Linked DNA regions of Homo sapiens: region 2 is reported to be linked to region 1. Evidence: microRNA targets listed by miRTarBase, many of them from high-throughput screens and not tested one by one. Region 1 holds a microRNA gene; the other region holds the end of a gene's coding sequence.
Evidence for each region. The annotated mature microRNA hsa-miR-6086 reads GGAGGUUGGGAAGGGCAGAG and lies in region 1 at 1,971-1,990, opposite strand. An mRNA with a match to its seed (bases 2 to 7 or 8) in the 3' UTR can be bound and repressed. Matches are read on the target gene's strand: a 7mer-m8 pairs with bases 2 to 8, a 7mer-A1 pairs with bases 2 to 7 and ends in A, and an 8mer does both.

Region 1 (4,148 bases):
GGATATGTACTTGGAGTTGCAACTTTAAATTCAGATGTTAGAAAAATAAATCTTTTTTTTTTTTTTTAAGCCCTGAAGACCTCTAGTTGTTCCCTGGAAACTGATTTCCAATGTGGTCCAGACAGGAAAGCCCAGCATAAATGCCAAATAGAACATAGGAGAAATGGTGAATAATACCCTTGCTATAAGGTTAAAGCTTCAGTAAGATGTTTTCAATTTACAGTAACTTTGGATCTGTGACTTCAACAGCCAATCGACAGCAAGGGAAATTCAGTTTGTGTTTAAAATGGCCTGAGATTGAAGCATGATTTAGACAAAGTAAAAGTCTTATTTGGTTCTCCCCCAAACTTCTCTATCTGAAGCTTTTCATCAGGTACTTGTTTATGGACAATTCTGTATTTCATCTCACTGAAGTGGCATACATTTTAAGGTTAATGATATCGAACTGATGAGACCCTGCCTTGGGAGGAGATTTAGACAGGGTAGAGGCTGAGAGCTAGAAGGCTCCAGGATACATAGAGGCAGGGCTTCAAAAGGAGTGAAGGGCAAATAGATGGACAGAGGGGAAGGCCTGGGTAGACTGTGACCTCACAGCCTGGGGTCTGGCTCTCCTTGTTGGGGCAGGTTGATGTGTATTCTTATTATCATGCATCCCACAACTCTGGCTTAGAAATCAGAAACCCAGCAATCAGGGAATAACTACCCTGTTATTTGGTGCTTCAAGAAACATGACTTTACCATCAAGAAGGACCATGCAAATTGGATAAAACATGATACACATTTTAGATCTAAAAATCATTGCAATTTAAGACCTGAACATTTGACTGGAGCAGTAGGTGTGCTGACCGTCTCTTCAGCTTGCAAAACTTGCATAGTGAGCATTTTGCTTGAACCCCCTGCACTTGCCCTTTTAACACCTTGCCTTCATTTATTCACCAGCGACATGCTGGGTCTCACAAGTTTTATGGCAGTAGACGCTGATGTTCGTGCAACTGTAAGAGAGACTCTAAATCATGTGTTTCACGTGGTTTTTGCCCCTTTCCACCTGACTGACTTCAAATAAAAATGTGTTATGTTGTGTCTAGCAAAAGAATAAAGCCACATTTAATCCCCCCATCACCTGGTGCTTTAATGACGAGAAGTCTGTGATGAGAATTATTGGTCCTTCCTGAAGGAATGGTAATTTATGAGGTATTTTCTATGCATGCCAGGTAATGAACTCACCCTTTAATGCATACATTCCTTACTCTCAGAGGTAGGTATTGCTCTCTCCAGGTTGCAGAGGAGGAAATTGAGCCTTAGCTAGCTTACCTTAGCTAGCTTGCCCAAGGTCACCCACGTCAGTCTGGTTCTCAATGCCCTTGATCATGACACTATCAATCCAATCAGGATGAGGACCCACCCTTTTAATTGACACAAGTCCCAGGAGGATATTCTAACTTCCTTTATCTAAGTGGGCAATGATGATCTTTGTTTTTGTCTAGTATTTTTATGCTCTTGTCATCTTGTCACAAGCAAACTATGATGGCAGAAGGTTTTGCATAATATGGAACATGTGGGAACGATATCAATGTTTTCTATTGTTTTATAGATTTTGGATATTATCAAGTTCTGACCCCACTTATGGTCAATCCAGATATTTTTTAACCAGCCAGAGAGAAGGAGGTTGGGGCAGGAACAGACTAGCAAAAAGAAGGTAGCATTGTTATTCCTAAAAATAGCTAACATGTTAGTGCTTTTATGGGACCTGCAACTGTGTTGTTATCCCATTTAATAGATAAATAACTTAGGATGAGGCACATGCTACCTACTGAAGGACACAGGGACAGTGAGAGTAGACTACTGCCCTGAAGGAATACACCCCTGGTGAGACAGTCAGGAGGAATGTGGATTTGGTTCTGCTACACTGCCAGTGTTGGTCGTTATGGAAAGTCATAAAAAGAAAAACAAGGCAAAAACTTTATGCTCATCTCTGCCCTTCCCAACCTCCTTGAAATGATCAGAGGCCTCTCTCGGAGTTCCTAACACATAGTCTGAGAAACAATGTCCAAGGCAAATTATGGTTCCTTGGTTTGCAATGTACAAAAAAATCAGCAAAATACTTAAAATCTTTGCATATATGCATATGTACCTTGAAAGCATTTAGAAATTGGCAGTATGAATTTTAAAAATGTGAGTTACAAATCTATAAGCTAAAAGGTGTACTTATTTTGTGGCTGAAGCCTACTGGTTGGGTGATTAATAATTAAAGTTTATTGCATTGGAAATCACTTAAATTATAATTAGAGGAGAAATTTACCAGCCTGCTTTTGCCCATCTTAGTTCCTTTAGATTAAAAAGAAAACCAAAAACAAACAACCCAGTCATACTCATTAAGATAATCACAAAAATAATTGACAAGACAGTCTTCTAAAATAAATCATGCCAAGTATGATGGCGTCAGCCACATTTTGTCTGGGAAGAGATCTCATAGGAACCCAGACCTTGGTTATTGGTAGTTATGCATGTCCTTGCCTGAGAGATCCACTGGCAATTTTGTGGCAGTTCATGGTATGACAGATAAAAACCTAAGGGCCCTGATCCAAGTGCAGGGTCTGAGTTTTTACAAAATTACCTTCACAGACTCCCTTGCTGTTTCTTCTCCAGCCGTAGCAGCAGGCCAGTTTAGTTCCATAGTGACAGACCCCAGGCTGACGTGCCGATGCTAACAACCCGTGATGCCTTGCACTGCAGATAAAGAACTACATGTTAGTATTGAGAAAATAGAAAAGACAACAGAAACTCTTCCCTACTACTAAAAGAACCAGAGATGTCAATTACCTGGTTAATTTCAACGAACCCGCAGTAAGTGCTAAATTAGATTTTGAAAACCTGAATTTTGGGGTTGCCAGCCTTCCTCAATAATTAGTTTCAACCATTTCCTTCTTCCCCACGGTTAAAAGAATCTATAAAACTAGGGCACATGAAGATGTCCAAAGTATATGTTTTTGAACCTTGTAGAGTGTCACTTTTCAGATCTGCTCTGTATACGCACAGCAACTATCCAGTTCTTTGTCTATTTCAGTCACTTTCTAATCCTGTGGCTTTGTCCCAGACCAGAGCTCTGCACTTTTATCCCACTGGCACCTGGGAACCATTGAATAGACTGGAATCAACATACACTATAGATGATTAAGAGTTGGAAGGGCTCGTTCAGCAAAGCCCTCTTATGTTACAGAGGAGGAAACTCCAGTCCAATGGAGTGGAGTCACATCCCCAGCAGAGCTGGGTGTTGGGAATTCTAGCCCAGGGCTCGTTCCCATTGACCTCCTGGAAACCCAATTTGCTAAACTGCTTAATTTTAGAGCAGAGATCGGCAAACATTTTCTGTAAAAAGCCAGATGGTAAGTATTTTAGGCTTTGTAGGGCCATAAGATATCTGTCCAAGTACAAAAGCAGCCATAGGCAATAGTAAACAGATGCGCATGACTGTGTTCCAATAAAACTTTATTTATGGACACTGTAATTTGAATAGCATATAATTTTCCTGTGTCATGATATGGTATTCTCCTTTTGCTCCATCTTCTAACATTTAAAAATGTAAAAACTGTTCTTCGCTCATGGGCTGTTTATAAAGAGGGGATCACCTAGCTTTGGCCAGCAGGCTGTAGCTTGCCTGATCTAGATGCCTGAAAAAGGTGAGCCCCCTGTCCCCCACCAAGTGCCCCCAAGTAGTGCCGCCATGGATGAAGCTCACTGCATGTTTACCTACTTACTGTCCTGGTATTGGACAGGGTTGCTACCAGACTTTGAAGGAAAATACTTGCATTGTATGTTTAGTGGAGGGCTGTGATTATTTCCTTACACATATTAAATACACTGTAAAAATGTTTCCTGGGCTCTTTAACAGACAAAGGAATGCACATTTTACCATGTGCTTTCTGCTACAGAACTGAACTTCATGCAAGTTAATAATATCTAAGTCAAGGTCGGGAAGTTAAACAACCTTGTAGATTTCCCTCAAGATCTGCCTCTCCCACAAATGTGATTACTCAGTTAAGAGCTATAAAGATATGGTCTGAGACATTTCATTTACTGAGAGCACCAAATGGGAGGATGATTTTAACATTTACTTTTTCTTGAAGAGAACTTTTTTTCATTTTTTAATG
Region 2 (4,000 bases), not on the chromosome of region 1:
TGCAAGCCAGGTGCAGTGGCTTATGCCTGTAATCCCAGCACTTTGGGAAGCCAAGGTGGGCAGATCACTTGAGGCTAGGAGTCCAAGAGCAGCCTGGCCAACATGGTGAACCCCATCTCTACTAAAAATACAAAAATTAGCTGGGCATGTTGGTAGGCACCTGTTATCCCAGCTATTTGGAAGGCTGAGGCAGGAGAATCGCTTGAACCCAGCTGCAGTGAGCCAAGATTGCACCATTGCACGCCAGCCTGGGCAACAAGAGCGAAACTCTGTCTCAAAACAAAACAAAACAAAACAAAACGCCAGGCGCAGTGGCTCACGCCTGTAATCCCAGCACTTTGGGAGGCCGAGGCAGGTGGATCACAAGGTCAGGAGATCAAGACCATCCTGACCAACATGGAGAAACCCCATCTCTACTAAAAATACAAAATTAGCTGGGCGTGGTGGCGCATGCCTGTAATCCCAGCTACTCAGGAAGCTGAGGCAGGAGAATTGTTTGAACCTGGGAGGCAGAGGTTGTGGTGAGCTGAGATCGCGTCACTGCACTCCAGCCTGGGCGACAGAGGGAGACTCCGTCTCAAAAAAAAAAAGAATATAAGGCAGACCTTGCCCGGCTCTGACCAACACCCTCCAGGGGCTCCCATCTCATTCAGCCAGAACTGGAGTCCTCAGAATGACTTGCTAAGCCTGCACATCTGACCCCAGCCACCTTCTGACCTCATTGTCTTCTTCTCTCCCTCCCCCACCCTCTCTGCTCAGCCACTCTCTGCCTCAGGCCTTGTTAGCTGTCACCAAGAACCTCTCATGCTAAATGGAATGCCCCTGGGTGACTTTTCCCGCACCCTGGCATCCCCTGCCTCTGGAACACGGCCTCACTCACAGTGGGCTCTGGGGCGCTTGTTGTATGTTAGAAGCTCTCCCTGTTAAGGCCGCTGTGTGGAAGGGGCAGCCACATGGTTGCCTCCTCCACCGTTTCTGTCTGCCTCTGATGGCCCTCCGGCTCCCGACTGCCTGCACAGTCGGGGGGTGGCACAGTGCCTGCAAATCTAAGCCACCCTCTCCCACTCCCTGAGCAGCTCCTAGCCAATGACTGGAAAGCCTGGCACCCTTGCTTTCATCGCAGGCTCTGCTTCTGGGGTACACTCTGAGACAGGAGCTTTCCTCTGTCCTCTCCCGCAAAGAGCCGGTTCAACCTGGGGGTCTGGGACGATGAGGGACTGAGGTGTCTAGATACACTCCCCTGTGCGTGGCCCAGGCTGCATCATCTGCCCCCACTGCCTGGGCCAAGCCCCTGCCCTGGCTTTTCATTCCCTTTGGGAATCTGACACGTTCACGACGCAGGTACACAAGCCTTCCCGGGGCCAGGATGCTGTATACACAAGATAAACGGACTTGGGTCTTAGTCCCATTCCCCTCGGGTCACGCTCCTCCTCCACCCAGGGTGGCTACAGTCATGAACCTGACAGGTGTCCTTCTAGTCCATGCTTTTCTATTTTACCGCACATACACCCAGGAACAACATATGGCATTGCTGTGAGGTCTGAAAATTCATCCCAATGCCATTCTGCAATCTGCTTTGTTCACATTTGCGGGGGGCCAACGTTGGTGGAAATAGGTCTGGTTTAACAGCTGTAACTGCTGCACTGTGCTCCATACGATGAATGGACCGTGGCTTACTGGTCCGTACTCCCTATAATGAATGGACCGTGGCTTACTGGTCCATACTCCCTACAATGAATGGACTGTGGCTTCCTGGTCCATACTCCCTACAATGAATAGACTGTGGCTTCCTGGTCCATACTCCCTACAATGAATAGACTGTGGCTTCCTGGTCCATACTCCCTGTAATGAATGGACCGTGGCTTACTGGTCCGTCTCCCGACAGTGAGGCTGTTTCCAGTTTCTCACAACTGCAGCTGCTCAGCAGCCCTCTGCCCGGAGCACAGCCCCTTCCCCACAGCAGCCTTCCTCCCTGACCCAGAGGCCCATGTCCTCTTCTTTCGGGGCTCTTGCCTCTGTCTGTAATCCTCCAGGTGGGAAGACTCCTAGGTTGAGAGCAGGCTCCCAAGGTCACCACTGCAGCCCCAAGCCCGCTCGGCACCAGGCAGGTACTGAGCCTCTTTTGATTGACAGATGGACGCAAGAGAATAATGGGAGTTGTGCACTAGGCCTTGACCCTGTGCCAGGGACAAGCCAGGATGGCCTGGGAAAGCCCTGGCACTTGGTGCCCAGGGGGCAGAAGAGCAAGCTGTGAATAGCTAGACCTGTCCGTGGGGTGGGCCGAGGCCCTGGGGAACTTCTGGACGTGTCAGCCCAAGTCAGCTGTGACCAGACACAGGGGCTACCAGGAAGAGGTCGCCCCTGCCTCCTAACCTAGCATCGTCACTGGCCTGAGGAGCAGGTCCACTGCTAACAAGTTCACCATCACTTAGGGAGCCCTCCTCACGCCAGGCACTTCACACCTGGAGCAGGCACCAACCCTTTCTAGAAGACACTGAAGGCATGCAGCTAGTAAGTGGCAGAGCAGGATTCCAAAGAGTGCCTGGGTCATCTGGTTCAGAGAAACGGATGCCCACGCACCACACCCACCAGTGTCTCTCTCTCCTGTGGCCTCTGCTAGGCCAGAGCCAGGCTCAAGCCCAGCTCAGCCAACGCACATGCCTGTTTCCTCCTGCCATGACAGAATGGGGCAGCACAGCACAGGCTCCACCTGGGAACTGGCAGGAGACATCTTCCCAGGAACAAGGCCAGGCCCCAGCCCAGCCAGGAGATTGAAGGTGGTTCAAAACACAGCCCATCTACAGAATTCCCCAAACTTTAATGCTGTGCTCTGAAAAGGGAGGCTGGAGGTTGTGGTGGGACACAGTGTTGCTGACACCTCTGGCCTCCAGCCCTGCATCCCTAGGCACCATGTGACCAGGCAGTGAGAAGGACGGGGCCTCACTCCCATGCCAGACTGCTCCTCGGGCTGAGCAGGACCTGAAGCTCTCAGGGCTTCCACCAAAGCCCAGCAAACTTGGGGGAGGCCTGAGGGGGCATCAGCAGTCCTTAAAGGCCTGAGCTTGCAACACTCAGGCAGGACTCGGCTGAGGGCCTCTGTGGTGCCACCATGGGGTAGGAGGTAAAGAGAGACCCTGGTTCCAGCCTGGGAACCAGTGGGTGCCCTGAAGGGAGGGGAGGCCTCAGGGAGTTCGGGACAGGAGTGTGCATGGTACTGGGCGGCCCATGGGGGCTCCTGGCCTCTTGGTTCAGGCAATCCCTGAGCTGGGGACACATTCCATCTTAGGTCCAAGAGACGGAGGTCAGGAGCATCCCTAGAACGACCTCCCAGGCACGAGGAAGGCCCGGGGCAGGGCCGGGCGCAGCGTGGCTGGCTTCAGTACCCTCGGGCATCTTGACTCCTGCCCTCTGGGACTGCAAAGGGATCTGCGGGCGCCTCTGCTGAGTCAATCGTCTGGTAGGCACTACGGTCCTGAGAAGACCCAAGGAAACCTAGGTGACAGGGGACATGGTGGGAAAGAAAAATGAAGGGTGAGAACTCGGGATGTTCAGCTGAGTCCAACCCAAGATCCACCCCCGCCACCCTCGGGCTGGGCATCCTGACACCATGCACAGAGACAGAGGCAGCAGCCCCAGGCCCTAAACCTTTAGCGTGTATTATTCATTCAATCCTGCCGTATCCCTGTGCGACGGGTATTTTTATTGTCCCCACTTTACAGATGAGGAGACTGTGGGTCAAAGGGATGAAGTGACTTGCCCGAGATCACACAGCTCAAAGCTGATGATGCTGGGACCCACGCCTAGGCAGCCGAGTCCAAAGCCAGGCTCCTGGCCCCTGTGCCATGGGCTTCCCCAGGCAGCACGTGCTTAGGAACCTGGGCAGAGGGACATCAGCCCCGGGCCCACGCACTCCTCTCCAGCTCCCCTCCCAGGTACAAGGACACCACATTACCATATCCAGATGGCCTCGGAGGCTGGGGCTGGGTCCAAGGCAGGGCCG

Region 2: the mRNA of AGTRAP is a reported target of hsa-miR-6086. Seed matches in the 3' UTR shown: 7mer-m8 at 2,847-2,853.

The regions. Positions count from the first base shown.
Region 1 is chrX:13,588,135-13,592,282 of GRCh38, reverse strand. It overlaps MIR6086 (microRNA 6086), which reads right to left and starts at 1,991; the gene lies at 1,937-1,991. EGFL6 (EGF like domain multiple 6) reads right to left here. Exons shown (of 12, transcript NM_015507.4): 2 at 2,615-2,727.
Region 2 is chr1:11,749,569-11,753,568 of GRCh38, reverse strand. It overlaps AGTRAP (angiotensin II receptor associated protein), which reads right to left. Exons shown (of 5, transcript NM_020350.5): 5 at 2,800-3,492. The coding sequence ends at 3,377. Among named protein-coding and RNA genes, the nearest start is that of C1orf167, 11 kb to the left of the region's middle.